2 separate regions of the Homo sapiens genome follow, and region 1 is linked to region 2. Evidence: fine-mapped expression QTL. A gene starts in region 2. The other region holds a variant in brackets. All regions are shown on one strand. Distances are from middle to middle.

Region 1 (5,374 bases), 22 kb before region 2:
CAGCGTCCTACGGGAGAGCTACCGGCTTCTAGGCAATGCTGCGTGTGATCTGTGGGGGAGCCTGGCCACTCCTGGAGGTTCCAAGGTCAAAGAAACGCATTCCGGATGCGACGGATTTGATCTTGGAAAGCTGCTTTGAAGATACGATAGCTATTCCCTATTGTTCACTTTAAGGCAAACAATGTATACATTTTTCTGTGTCAGGCTCCTCTGTGAAGTTAGTGAAACGGTAGCTTAGTTTGCTCCCATCTCCTGTTCCGCGCTGCTGGTTTTCGATTGTGCGTCACTGAATTGCCATCAGAAGTCCAGTCCCGACTGCGTGTGCGAGGCCAGGGAGGGAGGTGAGAGGCGGCCTCTCGGACACACTCTGCTGTGATCTTTGATTCAGGAGACACCCTCTTTGTTGATGATCCCTAAGAACTAAAGAGAGACTCCAGCATCACCCTTTCTCCTGGTGCCCTGTCCATAACTAAGCATCCAGGAATGTCCTCTGCAGGCATTTTCTCTGCTCATCCTCGCAGCAATCCTGTGAAGGAGACGTTTTCTCCATTCTATAGGAGAGGACTCTGAGGTTCAGAAAACTCAAGTCAGAGAACACGTGAGCTTGGACTCCGTTGCCTGACCCGCGTCGGACTGTAGGCTGCTGTTGCAGCTGTGTGGCTTTGGGTGCCTGGCCTGGGTGCTATGTGTTCACAAAATGCACTTCCCTTCCACCCTAGGTTCAAGGTGAACTCCGATCCCAGCCTCTCCTGTCAGGCTCAGCAATGGAAATGAGCAGAGGGGCCCTTTGTTCCATGCAGGCTGAATCCAGAACCTTCTGAGGACTTGAAGCCCTTTTATGCGGACAGGATGGGAAGTTAAGCGAAAGTTAACTTCTGTTGGATTAAGACCCTGAAGATTGGGCTTTAACACCTGTTGTGTTACCTGCACTCAAACAAACCAGGGCTCCTTACTCAGCCCTCAGGAGCCTTGGCATTCTCACCTCTAAAGCAGGAGGAGTCGTGATAACTGCCTTGAGGAATTTGAGCAAAGTTAAATGACCTGAACTATTTGGGCGTGTCTTGACCAATGTCCGACCTTGGGAGGTGCTGGATGAATTTTTATTTCTCTACTTTAAGTCAGCCTTTCTACCTTGTTGCTCTTCTCAGCTGCCTTTCTCTGAGCCTCCTTCATCACTCTGTTCATTTCTGTGAGACAAAGATCATTACAACTGCCTTAATATTTCGGTGCAAGACGCACCGTGACCTGACATTGCTCTACCCCGCCTCCTGCCACGATCATTCTTTTGTAGCAATATTCCGCCAGCTTCATTTTGTGCAGTGAGTGGAACAAGAGTCAGAACACCAGGGCGGCTGAGCCTGTCGATCAAGCCTCCACCTAACAACAGACATGCCTGAGTCCCACAGTCATAATTAGGATGAAGCTTTTCCCTGGCTGGACCCGGACTGCAGTCACACTGTAAGAGCTCATCATTCTAGGCCTCTGCCAGTGCGTGTTCAGTCAGAGGCAAGCAGTGGCCCCGGCTCCCAGAAGCATGGGGAGGACTCCTACCAGGGACGGTGGCCAGAATGGCTGCACACAGCCTTTGCTTCCAAGAAAAAGCATCTCCGCAGGCCCAGGCACCTCTGGCAGCCCTCAGAGCAGGACCCTCTTCAACAAGGTGATAGCAGAAGGGAAGAAACGCAGAGGTCTGTCTCAGAGATTAGAGCAACACAGAAACTGGATGCCCCCTTTCAGGGGAGAAACACGGGGTTTCACATCAGGAACCTGTTGAGGAACTTCCCGTCAGGCCCAGCAACACACCCAGGACCAAACCCCAACAGTGATGACTAAAAAATGTGTGTGGGGGCTGGGCACAGTGGTTCCTGCCTGTCAATCCAGCACTTTGGGAGGCCAAGGAGTGAGGCTCACTTTAGCTCAGGAGTTGGAGACTGGCCTAGGCAGCATAGTGAGGACCTATTTCTACAAAATAGTAATAATAATAATAATAATGGTAATAATAATAATAAAGCTGCATGGCCCCCAAAGGGTCGTGTCCAGCTCTGGATAAACTTGTCTGGTTAGTTCAGGTTTCATGGCGCGGCATAGAGGACCCCGACCGTTCATCACTCATTGCTGTGTCCCCAGTTGGCTGTGGCCTGAAACTGCCTGGTTTCAGTCAACACTGTTGCCGTCTTGCATCAGCCATTCAGGGGGTGGGTACCCATGGGAGGGCCTCAGCCAGGACAAAGGTCCACTTCTGTCTAATCGTGTAACTTTAAAATAAAGCTTTTGTGCAGGGACAGAGTAAACAAACTTTAAATGTGAATTTGCATCAATTGAACATTTACAAGTGTGACACTTTTACCTGGTGGCCCACTGGGACCAGGACGAAGCAGCTGGAGGGGCCCCAATGTGTGACTGAGAGAGGAATGTGTGGGCAGCCGTAGCGAGGCTGAGAGGTGAGCAGGCTGGGAAAACCCAGCGAGATGAGCGTGGCTGGAGACCGGCGGAACAGGCAGGCTGTGCAGGGCTTGCATGGGCGAGTGAGGCGCCCGTGCTGGCCAGAACATCATGGCTCTGTGCTGAGGGAACCACGGTGAGCGACGCCCAGAGACCCAGTCTTGGATCAGGAGCTGTAGTGGATACAGTTGAGGGAGTTTTGTGTAGTGCCTCACTGTTCTGATAAGAAGAAAACATGT[A/G]CAAGCTACGAACTGCAAATTGAGAAATTTTGGTGATTTTGCAAATGAGATAAATGGTCCTATATTTGCATTTGAAATTGGCATTGCACAAAATAAGTTGACTAATAATTTTTAATTTTCCTTCTTAGAATGACAATGTGGCAAATAAAGGAACCCAATGAAAAGAAGGGAAAGAGACTGCAGAGGGAAGGAAAAAGCTTTATATTTTACTACCATAATGGCACTTTTTAAAAAATTTTTATTTATTTATTTATTTTTGAGACAGAGTCTTGCTCTGTCGCCCAGGCTAGAGTGCAGTGGCACAATCTCGGCTCACTGCCAGCTCCGCCTCCTGGGTTCACACCATTCTCCTGCCTCAGCCTTCCCAGTAGCTGGGACTACAGGCGCCCACCACCACGCCTGGCTTTTTTTTGTGTGTGTGTGTGTTTTTAGTAGAGACAGGGTTTCACCGTGTTGGCCAGGATGGTCTCTATCTCCTGACCTCGTGATCCACCTGCCTCGGTCTCCCAAAGTGCTGGGATTACAGGCGTGAGCCACTGGGCCCGGCCAATAATGGCACTTTTTCCTGCTTTTTGTACAGGGGGTCCTGCATTTGTGTTTTGTCCTGGGCCCCTAAATTCTGCAGCTGGCCCTGGTAGAAAGCTGAGAAGTCAGAACAAAGGACTGCCCAGAGGCTGCACGGGGTGGGGGTGGGGGTGGGGGGGGGGCGTTCACATGGTCCGGAGTCCCCACCCCACCGCGTTTATATCTGGCACACTCTGGAGGACCCATCCATCTGTGTTCATGTCTGGCTGTGGCATCTATTGACCATGGGCTCTCAAAGTCACCTAATCATTTTGCATCTCTCTTTTTTCATGTCTAAGACAGGGATAATGATGGCACATACCTGTTAATGGCTGTTGTGAAGCTCTGTGTTAAGTTCTTAAGACAGAACTTGTCACAAGTCAGCCAGGCGTCATAATCACCGATGCCATCTCTTAACAAACTGGCCTTAACTATGAGCAGAGGGTGCAATGCGGAGGGCTGTGGGGTGCCCAGAGGTGAACAAGATGAGTGCTGTTGTCAGGGAGCTTTCAGTGGGATGAGGGAGCAGGGCCCCATCACGAAGGACATGGGGGGTTAGGGGAAAGGGGAGCCTTCCGGTGTGGGGGACATGGACAGACCTTCGGAGGAGAAAGGGTTGTGGGTTGAGTTGCATCCCCCGGAAAGGTATGTTGAAGCCCTAACCTGGTGCCTGTGAACGAGCCCTCACTTGCAGAACTGATCAAGTTGAGCTGGGGTCAACTAGAGCAGGGTGAGCCTCGAGTTCCATGTGACCAATGTCCTCATGGGAGGAGAGGGGAGCACGGGGAGAAGGTGACCACTTGAGGACGAAGGCAGAGGTTGGGGTGACGCGTCTACAAACGAGGGTTTCCCCGAACACCAGAGCTAAGAGCAAGGCATTGGCGCCCTCCCGCTGTGGAGTCTGCAGAGGGAGCCTGGCCCGGCTGACACCGTGGGTGCAGACTCCCGGCCTCCAGGCTGGGGGACAAGAAGTTCCTGTTGTGGCGACCTCAAGAAACTAACACAAAGGGGCATTTGAATTCAGTTGTCCAGGAAGATACAGGTGTTGCAGGGATGGGCTGCCACGTGGGCGGAGGCCTGGATGGGAAGGATTGTGCCAGGCATGGGTTCCCGCAGTGTGTTCCCCTGGCTGGCAGCGTCGCGGCACCTGGGAGTCATTAGGCAGCAAGGGAGGGAATTGCGATTCTGGGCGGGGCTCAGCTGTGCAGATTTTAGCAAGGTCTCCAGGTGCTTCTGCTGAGGGCCAGAGTTAAGACAGAGCTTAAGACAGAGAACCTCAACAGGAGGCCTGAAGGAAAGCACCTGGGAGTCATTAGGCAGCAAGGGAGGGAATTGCAATTCTGGGCGGGGCTCAGCTGTGCAGAGTTTAGCAAGGTCTCCAGGTGCTTCTGCTGAGGGCCAGAGTTAAGAAAGAGCGAGAACCTCATCAGGAGGACTGAAGGAAAGGAGCCAGGCTGCAGCCCTCTGCCTGCCCTTCCGTGCCATCATCTCCAGGATTAATGAAAGGGCCATTCAGGAAACAGCACAGGTGAGATGTGGGATGGGCTCCGTGGCTGCCTCTGTTTCCTGCCTTCTGTCTGTAAACTTCTGATTCAAGGAGGTGGCGTGGCCTCTCAGGGCAGTTGTATTTTTGGTTTACAGGCTCGTCAGCCCCCACTTATCTATCATAAGTGGGACACACATATGGGAGGAAAAGTTTCCTTTTCCTTCTACCCATCCTAGGTTCTCTGGCTGAGGTCCTATAAATTAGAATGGCAAAAGACAGGTTGACAAAATAGAAACAAACAAGGTTATTAACATGCTCATCATGCACACACATGGGAGCACTCAGCCATGAGTCACTCCAAGGGTTTATTAGAACTTGGGCTGATAGAGCTTCTAAACAAAATAATGACAAATTTTAGAGGAGTGACAAGACAAAGGAAAAGACCTTTGGGCTTCTAGGGCAGCAAACTGCAGCCAGCTAAACACATGGGAAATGAATGGAGGATAAGGGCTAGTTCCTAGTAGTCAAGTTTGCTGAGTAGATTCCTCCAGTGCTGTCTCCAGGCTGATAAGGCCTAGACTTGCCCCAGTGATTGGCTTCTGTCCTTCCTGGTAGAGACAGGAGTGGGGACACCTTCACTAAA
Region 2 (5,374 bases):
TTTAAATCCTTTACACGTACCCGTCTTTGGCCTTTGGCAGGTCAGCCCTGGGCCAGGCCATGGCTCCAGTGCACACACAGAGCTCATAACGCCAAAACCAGCTCTGAGAGCCAAGCCAGCTCTGGGTTTCTAGAGGTTGCACTCTCTTCCCTCAGGCAACTCCATGTCTGCAGGAATGTGTAGGCTGCGGGAAGGCAGCCTCAGGGGTCGGGTAAGATAAGAGTGTCCCTTTGTTTATGACGAGACCACTGGGGGACCATGTCTAAGACCTGCCCTGGTCACAGGAACACTGAGGGGTGCTGGGAATTATCTCCTCTAAGAGAAGCATTTTATTCTGCTACAGAGAAAAGGCAGAGAGTGAAATATACTGTTCATTTAAAAAAAATCCCTTTTAACATAGATAAAGGGGAGGAACTGGGAGGAAAAGAGAGAAAAAGCAGACGTAACTGAAGCCATGGTTTCAGAAATTCAATCCTAGTAGAAGTGCTGGAGGGACAGGGAGGGTGTGGCTGGGAAGGATGGAAACAGACCAGGTTTATTTGTGCACAAAGGGAAGCTCCTTAGAAGGCATAGGCTGGTGAAGGGGAGGGGAAGAGCAGCCTCTGGAAACAGCCCCCAGAGCCAGAGAGCGAGTCCTAGAGGATGGGGCTGGTGAGTTGAAGCAACCAAGGGAGAAAGACCAGCAGACAGTGCAATAAAACATCAGGAAGGTCCTCTAATATCAAAATACAGGTCATCCATGGGAACTAATGAGAGGCCAGAACTGAAGTAAACTAAAGTGTTGCCAAAAAATAAAAATAAGGTCCAAGTTGATTGATCGATAACACGGTTAGTATGAAGAAGTCCACATTATGCTAATTTCTTTACATATTATTCTAATTTGTATTGTCTCTGAAAGTCAAAATATCATCTTAGTCAATTAACATTTATTGGTGATAACATTTATTGGTGAAGTTGAACCATATATGTATCTTGAAGTTAACATTTTTGCTATATATCGGGTGCTGTTCTAGGGGCTTTCAAAATTATCCAAGTCTTGAACTTTTGCAACCCTCCTTTTTAAAGAGGAAACAGGTTCGGTGACTCAGTGACCCACCTGAGATCACCTAGCTAACAAATTACAGGATTAGGGTGTGAACCCGTGGAGCTCATCTGTTTCCATGCTCAGAATCCCTTTGCTAGACTGCGTGGCTCTTATGTCTATGTAAGCATGATAGTCCATGTTTAGTTAATATAAAAAGCTATTGTTTTCATAAAACTTTCATTTTCACTGAAATACATTAAGTGACAAGAACTTTACCCCATTTATCATTGGCCCTGATCTTCTGATGGTCTGGCAAGCTTCCCTGAGTAGTGTTGCCAGGATGCTAGACTTACCTGCGAGATTTGCCTTATAGATCTAATCTAGACAGAAATGGCTGACTTCACAGAACTTTGGAAACAATCTGCAGACATCAAGTTTTACTTATAATTGAATAAAAATAATTTTTCTTGCTTATTAGCTATGACATTTGTGGTAAGTTGCTTAAAGCTCCAGACTTACCCCGTCTAATACAGTTGTCTCTAGCCACATGTGGTTAAATTTTAATTGTAATTAACTAAAAGGAGATGCAGTTGTGAACTCATTTTATCAGTTGCACTTGCCACATTTCAGAACTCAATAGTCACATGTGGCGAGTGGCTACCATACTGGACAACACTGCCCCAGACCAAAATACCAAATCATTTAACTTTTCTGAAGCTGTTTCCTGTCTTATAATGGGTCTAAGATTTCTAATGATCATTAGCATAGCACTATTGTTGGTAACATGAAATAATGCATGAAATTCTTTGCATATTGTAAAGTACTATACTCATGTAAGTTGTTTTTTCTTTTAATAATTGCTGTACTGTGTTGTGAAACTGTACAGTCTTTGCAATACTAAGACTTTGGCCCCAGGATCTTACAATCACGTTAGCTCTTTTTCAGAAGTTGAACTATGTGTCTTGAAGTTGACATTTATGCTTTGTTCTTTAAGACTGAAGTCCTCATTCTGCACCACTGACAACTTCTGACAGTTTCTCTTACTGTGGAAGGTTCTATTCTATATACACATAAAAAGTGAAACATATCACTTTACCATCTGGACCATGTCTATTAGAATTTAATAGGAAAAAAGCGCAATTAACTAGAAGCTGGTAAGAGTAATGATCTTTTGCCCCATACAAAGTGGACATTGTGGATCACAGAGAAGGTAAATGAGTAACAGAGCTCCCGTATGCTTCATGGGGTCAGTGATAACCAAGTTCATTAACGAGTGACAGTCTTAATGACTAACACACCTCTAACATTTCACCTCTAGCTCAGATGAGAGAGAGAATGGGACTTCTTGGTACTGATTGTTTTTCCCATGCCTCAATTGGTTTCTTTTAGGGAGCTACAAATTTACGTGTTCACTGGTGATTGATCTTTTCATCCAGCACAATGGACAGAAGTCTAAGGAACGTCCTTGTGGTTTCCTTTGGGTTCCTGCTTCTCTTTACAGCCTATGGAGGTCTGCAGAGCCTGCAGGTATGTGTGTCCGGTCATCAAATTACCTGAACTTCTTGGCCTCCAAGAATCCCTGTGGTCACAGACAATAATGAATTGGAAATTTGAAAAATCTAATTCACCTGGTGTTTCTTTTTCACTCTGTACCAAATCCTCTAAAACAAACAGTGGTTCTCAGATGCAGTCCTACAGTGAGCAGTTCCCACTCACGTCTCAATAGGATTGCACAACAGCGAGGTGCACGTTGCTCTTGGACAAGGACAGCAGGGGTCTTGGGACTGTGATTTGTTGGGACATTCTTTGCCTTTGGGTGGTTAAAAGGAGACACAGGAAAAGTCATTGTGAATTCTATGATTGATTGGATGCCCTTGGCTTTGTGGTTAGGGGCAGCCATGTGAATTTATCAAATGTCACTAGACCTTATACATTCCAAGCCTACTCTAAGCTAAACTGTGAACTTTGACAACATGATCTCTCTATACTTTGAACTCCTTATGGCATGCTCTCCTCCATAGTTCCGTGAGCCCATGAAAAAGCCAAACGGCATTCTCCGAAAGGCTGCAGCATTCATCATGTGCACCTAGACATAGACCTGACACATTTTCCCAAGCTGGTTACATTTCAAGTCTGATCTTTACCTGGATTCCAGTCTGAATTCCAGGGAATTCCAAGGGCTGGTCAGGAAGCAGGGCTATTGTTACTCCCCCGGCTTATTCATTGCCACAGTGTTGTACCCTGTGGCCTGGTGTGGTCACATAAAACATTTCAGAGCTTCTGATGACAAATTAGTGTGGTCTTACATGGTTCGTCAATGAAGAATAAGAATTGGGCACCTACTGTGTGCATAGTATGGAACCAGAAAAGCACACCTGGGAACTCAGAATCCGAGGTTTCTCCTCTCACTGTTGTTGTGCAAACACTTGGGACTCCTGGGTTGCCAAGGAAGCTGGAATTCAGTCCTGAATTCTCAAGTAATGTTTCCTTTTGCTGAACTCCTATCTGGTTCTATTTCTGATCAGGCTTACAGAGGATAAAATGGCAGCCAACAGTGACTCTCAAAGTCAAGTGGAAGGGAACACAGTCTCTTTTCTTGCCGCAATGGTTCATTACTTTTGGAGTCCCTGCTTTGCCCAGAACTTTGTGTTGTTGTCACAGAATGCTGGTGTGAGTGAAATGCCTGTTGGGTTGAGGTGAGTGCATGTTGAATGTGGTTGGTGTGCACTTTCTGGAAGGAGGGAGTCTCAAGGATGTGGACTGGTCAGTAGCCCTTTCTCTTTAGAAAGCTCACCTGCCTGCAGAAGGAGACCCTGCTGTCCTCCTGGCACAGCAGCTCCCCTGGGGTCAGCATTCCTAGGAACCGACAGCTCCCCTGGGGTCAGCATTCCTAGGAACCAGTTCTGGTGGATCCGCTGTGGCTCAGCCACTGTCTGAAAATTGGCCTCTGGACTTGGAAGCCAGAGGAAGGGGGCTGGAGGGGGCTGGGAGCTGCCAGGGGTCCCTCCTCTCAGGCTGTGACGGCAGGACCCAAGGCTGTGGGCAAATGCGGGCAGACAACCCTTTGCCTCTTCAGCCCCAGTTTGGGGGTGCCTCATTGGGGAATCACTCATGGTGGCATCTGGATGAGCTCCGCAGCTGTGAGCAGCTGCCTGGGGAGTAGATTGTCCCACGCCCCGCCAGCACTTCCCACTCCTCCTGGGCTGGTGGAAGTGGGAGCTGCTGTCTCATGATGTCAGCCCTTCCTTCTCAAAAGACTGGAGATGCAGGGGAGCCAGACCTCCCTCTCTGCAGGGCCCCAGGACTGTGGAAGGGTCCCCTCCACTCCAGCTCCACCCTGGTTCGAGGCCCCACCCGGGCCTATTGTCGGCAGCTGACCTTGAGCATGCGGACGTGCTTTAACCCTCTAACTGGGACAGCTGTCTCTGCTACTCAGGACTGGCATGGGCAACACAGAGTGTTCAGATAGAAGTGACTCAGGATTGGTTTTGCCCCAGCATGCTGAGGAGCCGAGCCCACCTCTCTCCAAGAACCCCAAGGCTACTATGGGGTTGGCTTCGCTCTCAGGCCCCAACAAGGCACATGCATCCCCAGGCTCCCTCCTCAGAGCTCAGCAGCCCCAGTGAGAAGACAGGGCCTCATTCCAGAGAGTTCTCCTGAGTCCTCACCCTGGTCTGGACTAGGTCCCCTCGTCCAAGGACAAAGGACGCTCTTTTGTGGCACCTCCCCCTGTAGCCACCACCTCCTTTCACCCTTTCTGGCTGCAGGCCTCCAAGTTCTCATTCAGCTCTCAACTTGGAGGTCACCTCCTTCTCCCCACCCTGCCCTGGAGCTGAGGTCTGGATGGGGCACCCAGCACCCTCGTGGCGGTGTGTGCCTGCCCGGGTTGTCTCCACCAGTGGTGGCGGCCTGCAGTTTCCAGGATACGAGGGCCACGTCCCTGGTCCATTCTCAAACCTTAGACAGTGACGGGCACTCGGAGGCGGGCGATGGATATTTGGTGAAGGAAGAAATCATTCATGTGCACTCAGCTGCTTCATATCCTTCGGGCCTCCCCATGGGCTGAAGGACCCCTTACATTCCCTGGGAGCACGCAGGCTCCTCACAGATGAGTTCTGGCAGAGTCTCCAGCCCCATCCTGTCACACTGTCCTGTTCTCAGCTGAGATTCAGGCAGGTGTCCACAGAGGCGTGAGCGGCTCTCACAGCCATCCAGCCCCGGCGCAAGCACTCACAGGGGTGCCGGGCCTTCACTCCCTGATGTTTAGACACACTAACTGCTTTATTCCGAATTCACCTGCACTTTTCTCCCACCAGCTTCAGAGGAGGCTCCCAGGGCAGCAAGCCTGTG

What was found.
Region 1: its variant is fine-mapped to the expression of UNC93A in unexposed skin (GTEx, PIP 0.92).

Annotation. Positions count from the first base shown.
Region 1 is chr6:167,266,686-167,272,059 of GRCh38, forward strand. It overlaps a transcript of UNC93A not described here. Among named protein-coding and RNA genes, the nearest start is that of UNC93A, 22 kb to the right of the region's middle. RefSeq lists an enhancer at 965-2,164. The variant A/G (reference allele first, on the strand shown) is at 2,682.
Region 2 is chr6:167,289,026-167,294,399 of GRCh38, forward strand. It overlaps UNC93A (unc-93 homolog A), which reads left to right and starts at 2,290. Exons shown (of 8, transcript NM_018974.4): 1 at 2,290-2,551. The coding sequence starts at 2,465. RefSeq lists an enhancer at 4,552-5,374.